Homo sapiens: one gene and its partners. The protein of the gene in region 1 interacts with the protein of each later gene in a biochemical or structural test. Each region holds a gene or a part of one and is shown on either strand. Other genes may lie near its edges.

Evidence for each region. The genes of interacting proteins can lie anywhere in the genome.
Region 2: the proteins of SORT1 (region 1) and NTF3 form a complex in vitro, tested with the Homo sapiens proteins (one study listed by BioGRID).
Region 3: the proteins of SORT1 (region 1) and TG interact in a biophysical measurement, tested with the Homo sapiens proteins (one study listed by IntAct).

Annotation. Positions count from the first base shown.
Region 1 is NC_000001.11:109,386,816-109,395,591, reverse strand, and holds part of SORT1 (sortilin isoform 1 preproprotein), read left to right. Parts: intron 1-2,456; exon of another isoform or gene 2,457-2,565; intron 2,566-8,776.
Region 2 is NC_000012.12:5,491,108-5,495,799, reverse strand, and holds the end of NTF3 (neurotrophin-3 isoform 1 preproprotein), read right to left. Parts: intron 1,669-4,692; exon of another isoform or gene 1,607-1,668; coding exon 812-1,606; 3' UTR 501-811; downstream 1-500. UniProt on the Homo sapiens protein: Seems to promote the survival of visceral and proprioceptive sensory neurons.
Region 3 is NC_000008.11:132,862,844-132,869,957, forward strand, and holds the start of TG (thyroglobulin precursor), read left to right. Parts: upstream 1-4,114; 5' UTR 4,115-4,157; coding exon 4,158-4,224; intron 4,225-5,271; coding exon 5,272-5,380; intron 5,381-6,885; coding exon 6,886-6,983; intron 6,984-7,114. UniProt on the Homo sapiens protein: Acts as a substrate for the production of iodinated thyroid hormones thyroxine (T4) and triiodothyronine (T3).

The DNA.
Region 1 (8,776 bases):
TTGCAATAATTTTTTTTTAGTTTTTCTCTCCCAGTCTTTTTTTCAGTGACCTTATTTAAAATAGCTATTTTGGCTGGGCACGGTGGCTCATGCCTGTAATCTTATCAATGTGGGAGGCCAAGGCAGGTGGATCACTTGAGGTCAGAAGTTCAAGACTAGCCTGGCCAACATGGTGAAACCCTGTCTCTACTAAAAATACAAAAGTTAGCCAGACGCGGTGGCATGCGCCTGTAATTCCAGTTATTCTGGAGGCTGAGGCATGACGATCACTTGAACCCAGGAGGCAGAGGTTGCAGCGAGCCGAGATCGCACCGTTGTACTCCAGCCTGGGTGACAGAGTGAGACTCTATCTCAAAAAAAAAAAAAAAAAAAAAAAAAAAAAAGTTTTTGCGTTTGTTAGTCATCCGTGGTCTCTTCTTCAGAGATCTCATCCTTTCTGTATCTGGTTAAAAAAAAAAAAAGTGGAGCCTTTGTTTAATATCATTTACCTTAAAAATGGTTAAGTAGTACTTCTTAACCAAGAATTGTTATGTAGTAGCCTGTTCTTCTGTTTATTTATTTGGTTTTAGAAGTCATAAAAAATCCTGAACTGTATTGAAGAGATCTAGTATTTTTGGACCGTTTATAAAACAGTGTGAAATAAAAGCATCAGCATGACAGAACAACTTTTTATCAGAGATATTGTACTTTGTACAACTGGGGAAGGAAGGTACATGTAGAATCATTTTTCCTACATAACATGACAGGATTCGAGTCCCAAGAAAAAGCAAAAGTTCATGGTTCTCTTATTTCTTTTAACTTGGTCCTGTTTCATTTCAAGCCACATTAATTCACATCATCAATGTATGTGAATGCCCTCCAAATGCCTAGATCTGTGCTAGATGCTGGGGTGCCAAGATACAAAGAAAAGATCATTCAGACTGGAGAATGAAAAGCCTCAGAAGGTTATAGCAAACTACTAGACCTGTGTCTGTGGCTTATGAGGATATATTAGCATTTAACCTGTCTTCTCAAGAAAGCACGGTAAAGCTAAAGCATAATAGTGCGTTTATATTACGGTTTAAGGAGACCGGTGTCCTGATGACCACTCAGGCTTCTCTGTCCATGAAATCCAGCAGGTTTTTCTCTTTGCCCAAGCCTCCCTTTTTCTCTCTAAGGTTTTTTTTCTCATATCATTTCTTTTCAATCTATTAATTTAAAATATATTTAAAGTGCATTGGGTTTATTACACACAGCATATATTTTTTCACATAGAAGTCCTAATGATTAAGTGCTTTATTTTAGGAGTTGAGGCAGGAGAGGAAAACATTTTCCTTTCTAGTTACAGTATTACAAGTTAGCTATAATAGACTCATGGGAAAGTGGAAATAAAAAATACTGGCTATTACTAAAAAAACAAACAAAAGGGATGACAAGAAAACGAAGGAGAAAGATAAATAGTTATAACTTTCCAAAAATTATGCTCCCTAATTTTGTTCTAAGGGTTTGACTTACCATGGTAAGGTGGTATAGCACTGCCTTATCTGGACTGCCTGCATTTGAACCCTGGCCATGTCACTGTGTGATCCTGGGTGAGTTACTTAAGTTTTCTGTGTCTCAGTTCCTAATCTGTAAAGTGAAGATAAGAGCACTTAATTTGTAGGGTGGTTGTGAGAATTAAATGAGTGTGTGTTAAATTATATATACATAATATATACGTATATGTATATTATTGTATAAATATATATTTGTATTACATAATATATGCATATGTAATATTGTATTTGTAATGAGTTATAGTATGTATTACAACATATCACATTGTGTTGTATAATCTATACATATGTAATAACTCATTAGAAGAATGTCTGGCACATAATTAGCACTCAGCAATTAGCTATCATTTATAAATGCTCTCTTCTTAGACTCAATAATCTTCCTTTTGCCTGGAACTCAAAACTGTTTTCATGCCACATTTTTAACTGATTCTTTCCTTCAGCTGCTTGGAGTATTCATGACATGTATAACCTTTGTACATGCGTGAAATTGAGCAGGCCTAGAAGACTTTATTGTTGGTTACTAAGTTGGATTGCTTCAAAACATTTCTGCTGTAAGCACCCCTTTGAGGGTAGGCATGAAACTGTCTTAAAGGAACAGATGAAATGCCTTGGCCAGAGTTGTGGTGGTGGCTGACATAATTTCCTTACTTCTCATTCCTGTGTACAGACCATTTGACAATTTCCTTAAAACTTTTTAAACTTATGATGAATAAAGCCAGGAACTCTTGCTTATTTTCTGTCCTCCCTCTGCTCCTGTCACTAACTACTTCTGTAAACATAACTTCCCAACTTCTACTCCAACTTTAAAGCATCTGGTTCCTTAAATAAACAGGCCCTGTAGAGAGGCCGTGTTGTATGGGGTGTCAGCTCTGGGAAGAATGCGTGTGTTTGTTTGCTGGCTCTGGCAGGGTTGAGTCCAAGCTGACAGGACTGAGTGTGCCTGTCAGAGGCTTCAGGGAGCTGCCGCTGAAGACCTCGGCCTGTTGTTGTGAATCGCCAGACCTTTGTAACACCCGGAAGTCTGAAGGTCAGTCCTTTAATGCCCCGGAACTTCCTAACTGCCTCATTTCTTCCAATACTTGGCCTCTCTTCATCCTACCTTCCCTAGCACCCCCAGCCGTCTAGCTTATTTAATAGTCTCTTGAGTTCTGTTTCTTCCATTCAGCTTTGGATCAAGGAGTAGGAACTCTGTAGGATCTCCTTCTTGGTCCTGGTTGAGCAGAGTGAGCGAAACCTTCATGAAGAGTCTTCTCTCATGCAATGTATAGTCAGACCTTTAGCCCCTAGAGGGATGTTAAAATGACTTATGCATTGGATATTTCAGTAAGAAGTATCAGCAGATTTGATGAAGTGTAATTTATCTGGGGAAAGGTTAGTCTTCATCTGAAGTTTGGTTGGGATGAGAGTAGAAAGCTAGCCAGGTATGACAGATGGCTCCAAGGGAATGCAGTGTTAACAATTAGGTAAGTTCTCTGCTGACTCAAATGTTTGGCTCTGTGCACAGTGATTTTTAATTAGAAATCTGAGTCTCATGTCTGCTTGTGGAAATAATTGGAAGAAGGCTTATGTTCTGTTCAATTTCTAATGGCTATTTTCTTTTTGTGATTATTAACAACAATAATAGGCTTTCTATCCTGCTGTTTTGATCAGATCTTTCATGTCAGGGTCACAGATACTATTAGCAGTTTCTTCTGCACTCTGCCAGTTTCCAGTCAACTCTCGTCAACAGGCATTGGGTTCTCAGTGGGTGACTGCAGAGTCTGCGTTCCCCAACTTTGTCCCAGTTGGCCTGTTACCCTTGTGTGACCATCACATGCTGGGCAGTGCTTAGCACCAAGTTGTAATGGTCAGGACGGGGGAGTAACGTTTGTTCTTCTCCCTCCTTCCTACCTAATCCTACCCCTCAATTTTTTTTACAGAAAGTGAACTATGTTTTGAGGCTGCAGAAATGAGGCTCAGATATTTTATATAATTAGGAGCTAATATTAAGGCAGACAAAGCCATCACATTTGACATGTAATTTAAAATACAGCTTTTCTAGAAACAACAAAACTGTGGCAATGGCTCTGACAATATTATGAACTAGATACTGCATTTGTAGATTTCTACAAGTTTCAGTTCCCTTTCTCTCCTTTTGTCATCAGTGTTTTTATTGCATCTTTTACTTCTATTTTTAAAAACTTGGTGAAAACTTGTTCTTCCCACTATGTGGTCTCAGTGATTTGTATGCAGGTGGATTTGAGGATTAATGGGGCTTGAAGAACAAGCTGATCAATTTCAGTCAGTTCTAGGCAGCTTTTTTGTTCTTGTTTCAATGGTGACTGCAGTCAAAGTTGGGTTAGTAATATGTTGCTTTGAGATAGTTTGGTTGAATGAATGTTCATGACAGATTCCTCATACCTATGAAAATTTTTAGGTGAAAGATGGAGGCTGTTTTTCCTTCTCTATCCCCAATCTCAATCTCAGGAAACCACAGTAAAAACAAAATCCTTCCACTCAGAACCTGTCGTGTTTTGCCGAGGAAGTTTTCTGTGAATGTAACTTATTTTCTGTTTTGTGTTTTAGTCTCTGGCCCTCGATTCCTCATCTACAGCACAAGAAGTTTTGGACTAGCTTTAAAATTTCTTTCAAAAATTCTATGATTCATATGGGAGAGGCCAGAGGTTGTGATCACAAATGTTTTCCTGGCTGATTCCAAATTTAGAAGCAAACTGTGGCTGTTTGACTTCCCAGTCAAACTTGAACATAGCATGGATTTCACATTTAGGGGTGTTTTACTACCACCTCCAGAACTTGCTTCAGTGAAATATGCATGTTCTTAAAGATAGCAGGAGTACTTTTTTTCATGTAGTTATGAAAGACATTTTTCTCTTTTATTTTGGGGGTAATATTTTACCGTTTGTTCCTTGTTGGCTGAAAAATCTAATGCTAATAAAAGCTACTAGCTTGAATAGTCCAAAAGCAAACCCAACAGATAGCAGTAAATTCATTTTTCTTTTTCCCTTTCCTATAGTACTCTGCCAAAACTGGGGCTTTTTTTCTTCATCCTGGCTGCCTGTGTGTTTGAAAATAGATGGTCAGCTTACCATAAATATATTCACATGTAGAAACTTATATGTGATTAATTGGCTTGATTTATTTTTATCAGAAGAAAACGTATGTATGTTCCTTCTCTGGCTTATGAATACTATCCGTCTTATGTTTGCTTTGGATAAGCATTTTAGTCTTCCTGTATGTCCTAAAACGCGCGCGCGCACACACACACACACACACACACACACATACACACACACACACACACTTTCTAATATTGTACTGAAGCCAGTTTGCAAGTCTGGTTCCACAGTACAATTGCTCTGAAGGACCAGGAGAAATTGAACTGGGAAGGAAAATTTGTATTAACTTCAATAATTCCCAGACAAGTTAGTTCAAATCATTTTTATCTAGTATTTGCTATTTGTCACAAAGGATTCAAAACATAAATATGTTGTATACAAAATCTCAAAGAGATGTCTCAATACCCAGATTTGGGTCCTGGCTCTGCTGCTTCATAGCTGTGTGATTATGGAAAATCACTTAACTTCAGTGGTCTTTACAGTTGTTTTTTAAACTAGAGCAGCAGCTCTTAGGATTGTTTGGAGGGTCAAATGAGAAGTTTTATCAACGTGTTTTGTTAAAGGTAAAGTACTATATAGATGTCATTCATTTAGACACTTACTGAGCTGCCTGCCATGTACTGAGTGGAGTCCAGACCTGTGCATAAACAAAGCAAAGCACTGGGGCTATCTTAAGGATTTAGGTGTTCAGAGATGTTTCACTGGGAGTTTGGAAGAAGGCTTGACCACTGCAGTGCAGTGTTCTGGGAAAGCCCTCTGGCTGAAGAGAGAATCAAAGTGGAGGTGATTTTTAGGGAGATCTGTAACGGCACGAAGGAAGTAGGAAAATCCAAGATATGTTCAAGGGATGGTCAACAGAAACTTTATTTTAGGGTGAGGTAGTTGATGGGGAGTATGACTAAGGTTTCCAGGAAAACATATAGGGAAGTTAAAAAAAAGATAGCTCTTTTGTGGGGGATGGAAAGAGAGGAGGGGCGTGGGTAGTGAGTTTGGCAAAAGGACTTACTTGTGAAAGAGAGAGTTTTAACAGATAGTGCTAGACATGAGGCTAGAGCTGGAGGAACCAGAGGTAGAAATGGGGAGCCAAGAAGAGTTCCCCTTTCAGAGGCCGGCCATTGCTTTGGTCTTGGATGTGAAGGTCCCAGAGGAAAGCAGAACAGAAGGTGAGGCAGACCATCCTTTATACTTGAAGTGCTAACGTTTCCAAAAAGCACTCCTAAACTTCTGGACCTGGTTGAAGAAGAATGTGAGCCAAGGCATGAGGAAGCCAGGAGCTGTAAGACAGTGATGCCTATGAACAGATTTTTCTGAACATTTGTGAACAAGGATAAGGTTGAACTCTTGCTGATAATGTGCTTAATGGTTTGAATCATGGATTATTGGGCCGATTAGCTGGTCAGAGCCCTTTTGCTGATGCGGCTGGCTGACTTGCTTACTGGCCAAGAGCTGGGAGTAGAACACAGATGTCCCAACATGGTGCTGCATTTGGAAGTGTTTCATAGGAGTGTTGAAATCAATGCATTTGCTTTAGGGATAAGGCAAAGTTATGAGATCCCAGTTATAAGTAATATAGTTGTGAATTCTACTCTTTTTCTCAAGGTCATAGTACCCTCAACAGAGCTCAACTAGCCTTTCTAGGCCTCAGTTTCCCGTCACATAAAATGGAGGATTATCATGAAGTTTTGAAGGGAAGATATATGTGAAAATATTTTGAAACCTTGAAGTACCGTATGAGTATGATTTGTATAATTCCTTAATAAACCTGCTGATGTGTCACAGCCCCCACAGGGCCTGCTTGTCAGCCAGGTGATCCTGATAGATACAGCCCTTGAGCCAAACCCTGAGGAGCATGTGTATTAAAGCAGACGGATGAGGCATAAATGCGTTTGGTTTATCACTTGGCAGAGTTGGATGACAGGCTTGGGTGGGGGTGGCAAGAATTAAAGTGAGTCAAGATTGGCAGAAATGTAAGACGTGTATGTAGTGGTTTTCTTCTTTTTTTAAGCCTTTGTGATTATGTCAAACTTTTGTTAATATAATTGATGATGGTTTGAGGCAGTAGTTTGGGGGAACAGGATCTCAGGTATTAGATCTGGATTCAAACTTCAGTGGTGACCATGGACAAATTAACCTCTCTGAACCTTAGATTTTTCATCTATGAAATGGGAGTACTAATACTACCTCTTAGGGTCATTGTGAAGATAGTACAGGATTTAGTGTATATTCTTTTGTTGAGGATTTCTTGTAATGATTTTCATTACAAAGCTTCTGACACATTACCAGTTAGATGCTTAAATATTTGTACATGTGCTTAATTTTTTTCATATCTCTAATATTTCTAGAGAATTATTATAGGTACTCACAAGAACTGCATCTGGATTAAGACATATTAGCCCTGGCTAAGCAGGGTGACTCACACCTATAATCCCAAGATTTTTGGAGTCTGAGGCAAGAGAATCACTTGAGCCCATGAGTTTGAAACCAGCCTGGGCAACATAGTGAGACCCCATCTGTATAAAAAAATTTTTTTAATTAGCCTGGTATGGTAGCATATGCCGGTAGCCCTAGCCACACAAGAGTCTGAGGTGAGGGGATCACTTGAGCCCAGGAGTTTTGAGGCTGTCGTGAGCTATGATTGCGCCGCTGCATTCCAGTCTGGGCAACAGAGCGAGATACTGTCTTCCAAAAATACAAAAAAATTTATTAGGGGTAGGTAGTGGTGCACATCTAGAGTTCCAGCTATTTGGAAGGCTGAGGCAGGAGGATAGCTTGAGCCCAGGAGTTCAAAGCTATAGGACACTGTGATCGCATCTGTGAATAACCACTGTACGCCAGCCTGGGCAACATAGTGAGGTCCCATATCTAAAAGGAAAAAAAAATGTACTACTTGTATCACTGGACTCAGGATGAAAAAAGAGGAGGGTGGGAGATAGGTTTAGGCAGAGATCATCTATTCAAAATGCCTTTCTTTCTTTTTCTTTTTTTTTTGAGACAGGGTCTCGCTCTGTTGCCCAGGCTGGAGTGCAGTGGCACTATCTCGGCTCACTGCAACCTCCGCCTCTGGGGCTCAAGCAGTTCTCTGCCTCAGCCCCCCAAGTAGCTGGGATTACAGGTGCCCGCCACCACACCCGGCTAATTTTTGTATTTTTAGTAGAGATGGGGTTTCACCATCTTGGCCAGGCTGGTCTTAAACTCCTGACCTCGTGATCCACCCACCTCGGCCCCAAAGTGTTGGGATTGCAGGCGTGAGCCACCGCGCCCAGCCCAAAATGCCTTTCTTGAAGCTATGGGAGATAGAGAAGAAAATAATCAGATTAATAATCAGAAAACAGTAATCAGATACCTGGTCATCTGGTTATAATAGCTTCAAGCATATATGGTTAAATAGTTTTTGTTTTGTTTTAAAACAAAATTTTAAATTTTAAACAAAATTTAAAAATTTAAGAGACATGGTCTTTACTGTGTCACCCAGACTGGAGTGCAGGGGTGTAATCATGGTTTGTTGTAACCTTGAATTCCTGGGCTCAAGTGATCCTCCTGCCTCAGCCTCTGCAGTAGCTAGGACTACAGGCACATATCCCTGTGCCTGGCTAGTAAATAGGTTGAAATAACTTAAAGTTATTTATTTTTATTTATTTATTTTTTGAGACTGAGTCTCACTGTTGTCCTGGCTGGATGGAGTACAGTGGCATGATTTCAGCTCACTGCAACCTCTGCCTCCTGGGTTCAAGTGATCCTCCTGCCTCAGCCTCCAAAGTAGCTGGGACTGCAGATGTGCACCACCACACCTGGCTAATTTTTGTATTTTTAGTAGAGATGGGGTTTCACCATGTTGGCCAGGCTGGTCTTGAACTCCTGACCTCAGGTGATCTGCCTGCCTCAGCCTCCCAAAGTGCTGGGATTACAGGCATGAGCCACTGCACCTGACCAAATTATTTTTTAAAGACTATAATTTAATAACAATTTTTCTTCCCCTTCATTAAGCTTTAATTTGTTAAGAGTTAATGGCTCTGGTTTAAGTTGATAGCTCTGAAATAGCACCTTGCATATTTCACCCCTTTCTTTAACTGAGCAGCTGCTGTTAGCTTTGCACTCTACTGATCTCTGTGAAGTTTCAAGAAA
Region 2 (4,692 bases), on another chromosome or scaffold:
CAGATGAGGAGGGGTGGTCACAGGCTGAGAGTCGGCCATAAATAAATTTATCCTCTATGTATAGATGATTCATGATCCATTTCAGTTTGCTTCTGGGTAGTCATGCAATTATTTTGTTACAAATAGTTTTAAAAAATTCCTATGTGCCTAAAAAGATGAAACCACTTGCAAAAAGCAAAACAAAAACCAAAGCCAAAACAAAAAAATTCAACCCTTAAACAACCCCAAACCCCAAAACAACAAATGTGCTGCAAAGAAACTTCCAAAACTAAAATTGCCAGGGTCGTTGTTATTGTTCCAGGACCATAACACTGGAGCAAATCATAATTCTAATTTGCCAAACTAACAGCAGAGAATTTGATATAGAACTTGCTGGCCAGAGCTACAGGGTATCATTTTAAGTAAGTGCAGGCCATAACAGTTCTTTTAATTCATTAACCCAACATTAAATGTACCAGAAGAGGGATATAACTGTGTTTATACACAACTCTGACATCATCTGATTTTAACAAGTTTACTAAAACAACAGTCATGGCCTTGACAATACTGAATGCAAAATACTGGTGTACACAGATTTTACAGAGTGACTCCTGAGAGCCGGATCACAAAACAAGTTTTAACAGATGGGAGAGGCCTGAGGGAAGGCAAGCACACTGATTTTATTGAGAAAAAAGCTTATATACTGTAGGGTTGCTGAAGTTTAATAAATAAAGGTCAACTTATAATATATAAAAACAATATAAACATTTATATGCTACATGCATATCATATAATTTAAAGTAATAATTTATATATGGGGAGAGATGCCAATTCATGTTCTTCCGATTTTTCTCGACAAGGCACACACACAGGACGTGTCTATCCGTATCCACCGCCAGCCCACGAGTTTATTGTTCTCTGAAGTCAGTGCTCGGACGTAGGTTTGGGATGTTTTGCACTGAGAGTTCCAGTGTTTATCATCAATACCCCTGCAACCGTTTTTGACCGGCCTGGCTTCCTTACATCGCGTTTCATAAAAATATTGTTTGACGGGAGAGTTGCCCGTTTTGATCTCCCCCAGCACCGTGACCTGGTGTCCCCGAATGTCGATGGCCGATGACTTGTCGGTCACCCACAGACTCTCACTGTCACATACCGAGTACTCCCCTCGGTGACTCTTATGCTCCGCGTACCGTTTCCGCCGTGATGTTCTGTTCGCCACCACGGGGCTGCCCACGTAATCCTCCATGAGATACAAGGGCGGGGGCTCCAAGGGGGTGCTGTCGCTCAGCAGGACCCGCGGTGAGTTGTAGCGTCTCTGTTGTCGCAGCAGTTCGGTGTCCATTGCAATCACCGGCTGGAATGCTGACTTGGCGGGCCCTCCCCGCTCCGGCTCTCGGGGAGCCTCAGCTTTGGGCAGGGTGCTCTGGTAATTTTCCTTAACGTCCACCATCTGCTTGGAGAGCTTGTTTTTCAAAATATCTGCCTGGATCAGCTTAATAATGAGGGAATTGAGCGAGTCTTCTGGCAAACTCCTTTGATCCATGTTGTTACCTTGGATGCCACGGAGATAAGCGAGAAATATCACATAAAACAAGATGGACATCACCTTGTTCACCTGTAAGATCTGAAAAGGAAACACAGGTGTTAAGAGCAGGCTCTGGCAGCTGAGTCTGTGTTATTCTGGCACCAGCTACCTGAGGCTGAGTAGCCCTGTGAGGGCACGAGAGAGGGTACCGCCCCCCAGGTAAGCAAGGCAACTCCCCTCTGGACATTCTGAAGAGGTGATTTCTTTCCCCCACCCCCGGGAGATACTGCGAATGCACTCCAGGTCTGCCGACTCTGCTTTTTGCACGGGTTGTATTTACATTGGATGTCTGCTTTATCCTGCGGTCTCTGCTTGTGGGTGGACGATGTCCTACCGCTTCTTTAAACATCCCTTGAGCCTGCAAAGACGCATGGTTCACTCTACCTTGGCAAAGCATGAAAACTTCAAACCTGAGAATTGTAAACATGGAGTAACTTCCCTTCAGCAGCAGCAGCGGTGGCCTTGTAATTGTCTCAAGAAAGAGTTCGACTGCTCCCCAGCTGCAGCCCCTGGAACACACTGAGGCTGAGGACTGGTTCAGTTGCCCCCATATTGCAGTGTCAGATGTGGGGTCATCCCTGGCCAGGCCGCAGCTGGAACGGTCTATTCTCCTGCCCTTGGAAATGAACATGTAGGGCCACTACCCACTCCGCGAGAGGGCCTACGTTCCAGGGTGCTCTGCCGAGCTTTCTGATACATACGCATCACCAACTGATCTGCTCCATCCCCGGGGACGCTCTCCACAAAACGCAGCTCTGCCACAGCACTACTTGCAGAAGACAGAGATGCAGAATAACCACCTTACATAAATGGGCTGGACTTGCCCAGAATAGAAGAGTCATTGTTGATTCACTTGCCTCCTTTAGATTTTTAACATTTCTGCTACAAAATGTTCCTTTTAGTGCTTATGCTTCTTCTAATTCTACTATTTCCTTGTTGAAATGGCATTTCAACCCATCCACGCTCTCATTCTGTTGCCATAGTAGAAGCTTAACACCGGACTCCGGTGGCGTCCTGGTGGAATTACAGTGCTGATCTCAAGACACCTTCATTGCTAGTCTCTCCCTCACTAGAGCAAAGCCCAGATGTTCTGAGGGTAGCACTGGAAGGAGATGCTCCAGGTGGAGAGGGGCAGCTGAGCTAGTGATCCCCGAATTCGTCCACCTCCTTGAGATATTCACTCCTTAATCACCATCGCTGCCACCTCACTGGCTCCCAGGGGGGTACATCATTTCCTCTTTAAAGTTCTGTCCAAACATGGAAAATAAAAACTCTTCCCCTGGTTCACCTTTGGTATTTTCGGAAAGACTTTACTAAGTCCAGGGGGAAAATAGAGAGGAAATAAACAAAGCCGACACAAGAAACAGAAAAGCAGTCCTGCTAACCAGCACCTATGTCTGAGCCTGCCAGTGCTCACTCGCTCCCAGGACTCACAGACAGCCTCTTTCCCAGCTTGTCTGAAATACTGCCGGCTCACTTGTCCCTAGAGGTCAACAACAGTGAGGCACTCTGCTCATACTGCCTCCTCTTGCTGCTGTGATAAGGAGACCATCTTCTTTCCATGGGAACTAGTCTTTGGGAAAACTGACTCCTTCAAGGTCAAAGCCAAGAGAGGGATTCTAGCTTTGCTGCTCACCCTTAGAGATGACTCTAAGGAATTGTACTATCCTAGGAAAATGGTTCCTCTACAGCATAAGGAATCTCCCTCCTATTCTGCATACAAGTGACATTTTCTTCAATATTACAGGCCCAACAAAATGCAACTTGAACAATACAAAAAATATGGCATACAACTAGGATTACATTCTCTACTCCCCTCAAAAAGAATAATACAGCTGCAATAAAATCATTTAGGACTGAGAGTCTATTGAAAAACAATTTGTTAAACCTCCCAAAAGCTCAGCCACTGTAAGCTAAGAATACACAGGATATCCGCTCTTAAGGAAATAAATCAAGTATGGTTAGTGAGGGGAGGTCCCAGGTAGAATAAGAGTCAAGGTACAGATTAGTGAGGTAATGACCAGGATGAACTGAGAGGGAGAATGCTGGCTGATGCTGATGGATTGAGGAGGAAAAAGTAAGAGTCTTTATGGGTGGTGGCTGGAATATGGAACCAAAGTTTATTAGAAGTAGATAAGCCATATAAAGAGGCCATCTAATCTTATTCCTTCATCTTATAGATGAGGACAACCTAAATGCAGTTTAAAGAAGAGGAGAAAGGCCGGGTACGGTGGCTTATGCCTGTAATCCCAGCACTTTGGGAGGCCGAGGTGGGTGGATCACGAGGTCAGGAGATCGAGACCATCCTGGCTAACAAGGTGAAACCCCGTCTAAAAAAAAATACAAAAATTAGCAGGGCACGGTGGCAGCCTGTAGTCCCAGCTACTCGGGAGGCTGAGGCAGGAGAATGGTGTGAACCCGGGAGGCGGAGCTTACAGTGAGCCAACATCACGCCACTGCACTCCAGCCTGGGCGACAGAGCAAGACTCCAATTCAAAAAAAAAAAAAAAAAAAAAGAAGAGGAGAGACCCACAGGAAAGTGAGAGGGGTTCTCTGCACTCTGGCCCTCACCTCCCTTTTCCATGTGATGACTGGGCTCACAGGCCTCTTGCTCCAACCCCATTCACTACTCACTGCTGCTCAAATCACAACCCATGTGCACTGCCTCTCCTGTTGAAATTTCACCCGTTTTTCAGTGCCTGGTTCCAAAGCTGACCTTTCTACAATGCTCCCCCAAGATCCCAACGATAGCACCTGCCACTTCCTTGCAACCTCAGCCTGCTCTCCCAGTGGCTGACCATTTCTTTCTTACTTGCCATGATACTTTGTAATAAGTAGTGGGAGTAAGTCATCTGCAGGCTGGTGAGTGTTTCTAAACTCTTTAGAAGGCTGTCTTAAAGCCCTGCAGGCTTCCTGTGGACTCCATTTTAATAATCGACTTCTAGCTTTTCTCGTAGAGAGCAAGTCCAAGAATGTTGCTAACAGAACTCCCCAAAACACAGAGGTTTGCAGCTGGAAAGGACCCTAGACAACCTCCTCATTTATACATATAAGGGAACGGAGGCCTGCAGTTGTGGTGAAGTGAGCTGTCTAAGGTCAGACTGCTAAACAATGGCAGAGAGTGA
Region 3 (7,114 bases), on another chromosome or scaffold:
AGGTTGTTATCTAAAAGTTTTCTGTCTTACCAGTCTGCCGCCCTTTCCTGGAACTTTGGCTCAAGAGGCTTTTCTGGGGGCTTGTTTTGTCTGTGCTCCCTGGCATTTCTGAGTATCCAGCTCCTCCAACATCTCATCTGAGACATAGGAGGCCGAATAAAATCCAGGAAACTCCTACCATATATCTTGTCCCTCTGATCCTGAGGTTGATAGCCAGTCTTTTTCTCTCTAACTTTCAGTGCCTTCTTATGTTTGTTTTATGTATAATATTCATGGTTTTAGCTATACTTAGTAAGAGGTACAGGGAAAAGTGTATTTTTCACTCTGTCTTTCTGGGATGAGAAATCAAGAACCAGAAATGTTTATTATTGCCCTAGGAACCTAGGAGAAGACGGGTTGTGGCTTTGTGTCCCTAGGTATTTGGAGGATGGGGAGAAGCTGTCCATAAGTGGTAGCAGGGATCCAGCAATATGGTGGCAGGCTGGACTAAAGGAGAGATGACTGGGAAGCAATTTCCTGTGGTGCATGACAGCTGATGGATGGATGTCAGAAACAGTGGTGTCTGATGATCCATTTGAAGCCATTTCCTCCTCTATATTGCTATTACTGTCCATCTCCCCCTAAATTTTCAGTAAGCACCTATTATATAAAGCACCTTAGTATTAAAAAATGAAGGAGATGAAAGAGAAGGTTGTGCAGTTGTATTTTGGGCCAAGAAGAGTGGGAGAGGTGGCAGGGCCAGCGATGAAGAGCCTGCCAGAGTGATGGAGGCCTGAGCAAGGAGCAAGTTGGTGAAGAAAGATTAGGACATTGCCATGTGGAGTCGCTGTGGAAGCCTGTTTGTTCTCAGAGCTCAGTGGAGAAGAGGTAAAAGTAGGGACCAGTAGCTGAGTCATTATGAGAAAGAGGGTTTCATGGTGGTGGAAGTGACACATTGCCTCGATTCTCTTGAAGCTTTCTGCTTTGTTGCTTGAGTGGAGAGAAGCACCTCTGCTATTGCGTATGGAGGGAAGCTCTTTGCATGGATTTTGAAGGCGGCCTCTGCATTTCGGACTACTGGGTGCTCCCCCACAGGCTCCTAACACCTTGCTGCTTCTCCAGGTGGGGTCTGACGTGGAGTCAGCTCACAGACCTGCCATTCCTCTCTCATAGTACTCCTCATTCCAGTGATATCTTGGCCTGCTTCATGAACCCTGAGCCCAGAGTTCCTAAAGCACCAAACCCAGTGAAGCAGAGACACTTCTGGCATGGGTCTGTGGGTTGCTTCTCAGGGGCCAGGCCAGCAAGAATGATTCAGCACACAGGCCAACCTGTGCAAGCTTTATGCATGCATTTTAGGGCAATGGGAAGAGTGGTGAGTGAGGTTTATGGTAAATCTTTAACCACATTCAATTTTTTCTAAGACTTTTCTGCTTTAGAACATGTAGAAATGGAGAAATGACCAGGGGCTGCACAATGCTGTGCTTATTATATTGCTGTAGAGAGAAGGATGCTGCCAGCTCTCCATAGCCTGGGGTGAACTTGGCCTATGTAATGAGGTAGCAGGGAGTCAGGCAGGTGAGTTCTTCCTCTTGTATTGCCTTTTCCAGTAAATGCCAATACACTCCCCAGCTCACCTTTACCTAACATCTAGGTCTTAATCCAAGTTGTCCTCCCACTCCCCAGGGTGAATTGATCTTCCTGCCACGGCACCTCCTGAGCATCTGTTGGCTGAGTCTCCATCCCCACCCGTGAAAACAGCCTTGTGATGTGCTGTTTAATATCACAGAATGGAAACAGTGTTTTGATTCACCAGGATCCAAACACTCTTTTTGTAGAATCTACAAAGTGACATGGATGGCCATATTTTAGAGGACTGTTCCTGCAGCTGGTGGGGAAGCCCTGGTGAGGAGCAGTACAGCAGGCTGTTCTGGCTGGCTCGTTCTGAGCTGTAGGGATGTGACGGAGGCAGGAAGAGTGAGGATGCAGAGGAGGGGAGGACCAAGGAAGTAGAAATGAGCAGCAGCCTGGTAGGACCTGGAGGCTGGTAAGACTTGAGGGGAGAAGCCTAGGATGGGGCTCGGATTTACTATCACAGAGACAGCCAATGGGGTGATGTCAGGAGAAAGGTTGAGGAGTTCAGGTTGGGATATGTTGAATTTGAAATACCTGTAGGGTGTCCAGGCAGAGTGGATCTGAGCTCAAAAAAGTCTGGCTGGAGACTGAGCTAGAGAGAGATGTGGGAGTTCCAGGCATGTGTGGTCCCCAAGAAGGACGGGCAGAGCACGGGTTCTCCCCTGTTTTTAATCCCATACCCTGACACTTCAAATGACTGTTGTGTTTTACTTTCTCTAGTTTATATCAGGAACCCAACAATGATGACAGTAGCTGTTATGGACTGAATTGTGTTCTCCCCCCAAATCCATATGCTGAAGTCCTAAAACCAGGACCTCAGAATGTGACCGCATTTGAAGGTAGGGTCTTTAAAGAGGTAATTAAGTGCACAATGAGGTCACAAGGATGGGCTCTAATCCAATATGACTGGTGTACTTAAAAGAAATAAATATTAAGACACAAACACACACAGGGAAGACCAAGTGAGGATACAGGGAGGAGATGGCCATCTGCAAGCCCAGGAGAGGAGTCTCCAAAGAAACCAACAGTGCTGACACTTTGATCTTGGATTTCCAGCCTTCAGAACTATGAGAAAATAAATTTCTGTTACTTAAGCCACCCAGTCTGTGATAGTTTGTGATGACACCCATAGCAGACTAGTACAGTAGCTAACACTGGATACTTATTATGTGTCAAATACTGTTTTAAGCACTTTGCATATTTTAACACATTTAATATTCATAGCAACCCTATTTGTGGAAGGTAGTACAGTCTACGGCACGGCAGCTATATCGGCCCCTTTATTTTCCCCAGGGTTTGGAGTCTCTTCCACTTTCCAGCTTGTCCTCCTGCCCTTCACTCTACCCGGGACCATATCCTCCAGATTCTCACAGGTCCCTCCATCTCTCCTCAGGTGCCAGGCTCAGCAACCTGCCCTCATTACCTGCCAGTTCCTGACCCTATCTGTCACTAGCTCCTTACCTGGCTGGATTGGTCTTCTGAATACTTGCCATTCCCTGGCATGATGCTTTTGCAAAATAAGAAAATCAATAATAATAATAATAACTGCTAGTGTCTAATAAGCATGTGCTCTTCAATGTCTATTCTCTTACAACTACCTTAACAAATAGGGACATATTATTATTCTCCTTTTAACTTTGCTTTCCAGAGAAGGAGGCTGGGGCTCAGGGAGATGAGGTGAGTTTTTCCAGGTCTCACAGGAACAGGACTGAAGGAAGGAAGCCATGTTTGCCAGGAGAAACCAAATGGACATACAGGCTTTCTGTGGAATACACAGTTCCTGCTATCTTTTGGTTGACAAAGTCTGAGGTCCTAGGAAAGAGAGGAAAGTAATAGAAATATGAATATGAGTGTGTGTGTATTTTGCTTCCCTCACCAAAGTTTTCACAGTCTATATTAATGAGGGCACGATTTTGCCTGTTTTGTTCTCTGCCATATCCTCATTGTCTAGATTAGGTGCCTGCTACTGTGGAGCTCTAAGAGGTTGTTAGAGAAAGAATAGAAGAAAGAAAAGAAGGAAGGAAGGAAAGAAGGAAGAAAGAAAAGAAAGAGGGAAGGAAGGAAAGAAAGAAGGAAGAATGAAAGGAAAGAAGGATAGAAGGGAGAAAGGAAGGAAAGAAGAAAGAAAGGAAGAAAGGAAAGAAGGAAGGAGGAAGGAGAAGGAGAAAGGGTAGGGTGGGGAAGGAAAGAACAAAGGATTGCTTTTCCCTCACTGTGGGCTTGAGCCTGTTCCCTCCAAAGATACAGAGCTTTGGTCTTTACCCATAAAAAAGGATTTTGAAGTCACCCCACCCCGTTCTGTTCCCCCACAGTTTAGACAAGATCCTCATGCTCCACTGGCCACACGAGTGCCCTCAGGAGGAGTAGACACAGGTGGAGGGAGCTCCTTTTGACCAGCAGAGAAAACAGGATGGGGCACTGCCTCACTGAGGACCTGGGGGTGGGAAGGAAAGTGCCAACGGCAGCTCTATAAAAGCTCCCTGGCCAGGGGACCTAGGGCAAGCAGTGGTTTCTCCTCCTTCCTCCCAGGAAGGGCCAGGAAAATGGCCCTGGTCCTGGAGATCTTCACCCTGCTGGCCTCCATCTGCTGGGTGTCGGCCAATATCTTCGGTAAGTTCTGAGGCCATGGAGCCAGGCGGTGGGGAGGGAGCTCCAGTGTCAGCCAGGCTCTGCCCTGGGCCTTCGAACAGGTGCGATCTAATTTAATCTTCACAAATTCCCACATGTCAGTGATTTGCTTTTTTTTTTTCAGATGAAGAGGCAGATTTAGAGAGCCGAACTGAATTACTTGAGGTCACAGAGCTAGTGATTGATGGAGCAGAAATGGGAAATGTGGTTGATCTTCCTAATTCAATTCTAGGTCCTCCTCACCCCACCATTTTGGCAAACTTTTGGCATTGACCTTGGGTTTTTATCCCCTTAGCTATTCCAAAGTCTGTGTCATCCATAACAGGTATTTTAGAAGCAGTAGAAAAAGAAATCTACCTATGAAGTGAAATAGCCCTAAGTTCTGTCTTTGGCTCAGCCACTTACCCATATGACTTCGGGCAAAGTGCCAAGCTTCTGTTTTTTTTTTTTTTTTTTCATTTAAAAAGTAAACAAATAACACACACCTCATGATGCGGTTGTGATTTCTGGGTAGGACCCTATGTGTTACAAGAGTTCTCAATGGAAAAATAAGTCATGTACATTATTAATTAATTGGTATTTCAATGTTTATCTGGAACATGTTACATCTGCAGGGCATGGCTTGATAGATTCAAGAAGAACTTCCTTACGGTTCTCTAACTTACTCCAAATAGCCTCATGGGAATTGCGGCAGGGTGGGGGCGGGCGGGGAACGTGTAGTCCCAGCGTTGATTTTGGGATCCTTCACTTGCCAGTTACGTGACTTTGGGCAGACGACTTTCGCTGCCTGAGACTTGGTGCCTCATGAGTGACAAGGATATATTGCCTGTCACCTCTTAGGAGAATGTTGCACATTAAATGAGCTAATGTCATACTTGTAAGAAAGTGTGCTTAGCTGCCAAATTTTAAAATAGGCTGTCATAGGTAATGATGATGACCCTGGAAAAGCATCTGTGCTTATGAGAGCCCGTCTCTGTCCTGGCAGCCCAGTCCACACTCTTCTTTGATGAACCACTTTTCTTTTCCTAGAGTACCAGGTGGATGCCCAGCCCCTTCGTCCCTGTGAGCTGCAGAGGGAAACGGCCTTTCTGAAGCAAGCAGACTACGTGCCCCAGTGTGCAGAGGATGGCAGCTTCCAGTAAGGCTTATGTCAGCAGCGAACTCTCAAGGTCCAAGATGCCATAAAAAGCATCTTGTGCCTTCCCCCCTCTTCCTGAGCTCTGCCCTGCAACTCCTTTGTGCATGTGAGGCTTGGCCACTGTCATTTGGAGGTGCCTGCCTTTCAGTTCCACTGTCATTTGGAGGTGCCTGCCTTTCAGTTCCCCAAGCTGTTCAACACTGGACAATCTGACCAAGTGAACCCCAATCCATGCTTCATCCTCCCACTGCCCTCCCTTCTCTTCTTGCCATCACTTTTTCTGTGATGGCTTGAATAAACGGCACGTGTGGGGAGTGGGGCAGGTTGAGGAGAGTGTCAAATGATCTGTGCTTTGGGACCTCTCCCTCCTCCAAGTATCCTCTTGAGAAGCTGGGGTGGTGGAAGCAGAGGCTGCCTTGACTTCCTAGTCCTTAGCTGCCACCGACCCTGCCCGGACTAGCTCTCTAGGCTGCCTCTGGGCTTCTGGGTCGCTGTCTCCACATTGAGCTGCTCTCTGAAAGGGGTTTCTCCAGCTGCCCTAATGCAGACTTGGGGCCTGAGACCCTCTCTGTGGAGAGTGTGGTAATAATCTAGACAATTCTTCCCTGCAGAATAGACAGGAATCCTTTGCAATGTGCATGCATTGAAATTTCCTTGTGCTATTCCAGTCATGTTGAATCAGGGGAACTCCATTTATATAACTGCGTTCTGGGAAATGTCTGTGAAACCTCCCTCCCTGCTGCTATCTTATGTACACTCTTAATGTGCCTAACCTCCCACGAGTGTGCAGAGATGCTGCTAGAGCAGTCCCTGCTTAGATCACTGGGAATTCTGGAACAGCAAGGAAGGAGTTAAGGAGGAAGTCTCACTTTCACCAGCCTTATTTATATTCCCATTCCCAACTCTCTTGTTCTGGCCTCTTGCAGTTTCAAACCTGGCCTCTCTTCAGGAGGCTTTGCATATGCTGTTCCCTTTACCTGGAATATCTTTTACCTTCTTATACCTCTGACCATCCTGCAGGTCTCAGTTCAGTCATCATTTCTGGGGAGTCAACTCTATGGCCTGGCCTGACCCCACCCATGTGCTTCCCAATATACCCTGCTGGCCCCTGATCCCACTAACATCCCACCCCCAAGCCCCCACTCCCTATCCATACAATGTGGGCACTGCCTTTACCCTCTGCAGCCTCATAATGCCTGAGGACACTTGGTGGATGTGGCTGAAGCCCTGCACTCCAGGGTGGGTCACTTGTTTTGGGGCTGGCAGGCTGGACAGGTGGTGAATGAATGGCTGGGGCAGGAGGCAGAGCAGGTGCTAGCCAGGCAGGAAAAGTGGGGCCTTTCCTTTCCCAGGTCAGCCACCCTTCTCCACTCCACTCTCTCCCTAATTTAAACGAACCAAAACTTGCAAGAATGGAAATGAAGAAGAAAAGTAGCCTGAGTGGGAGCCGGCATGTGGCTTTGGGGGCCCATCCCAGGGTCACCTGGTCTGTGTCTCCTCCTCAGGACTGTCCAGTGCCAGAACGACGGCCGCTCCTGCTGGTGTGTGGGTGCCAACGGCAGTGAAGTGCTGGGCAGCAGGCAGCCAGGACGGCCTGTGGCTTGTAAGTGGGAGTGGGGGACGTCCCTTGGAGGGACCCTGCTAGGACAACTCACTTCCAGGAATGAGCACTGGGTTTGGGTGGGTGACTGAGCAGGTCCTCCCTCTGGGCTGCTGGCTTCTCCTCTGTGAATA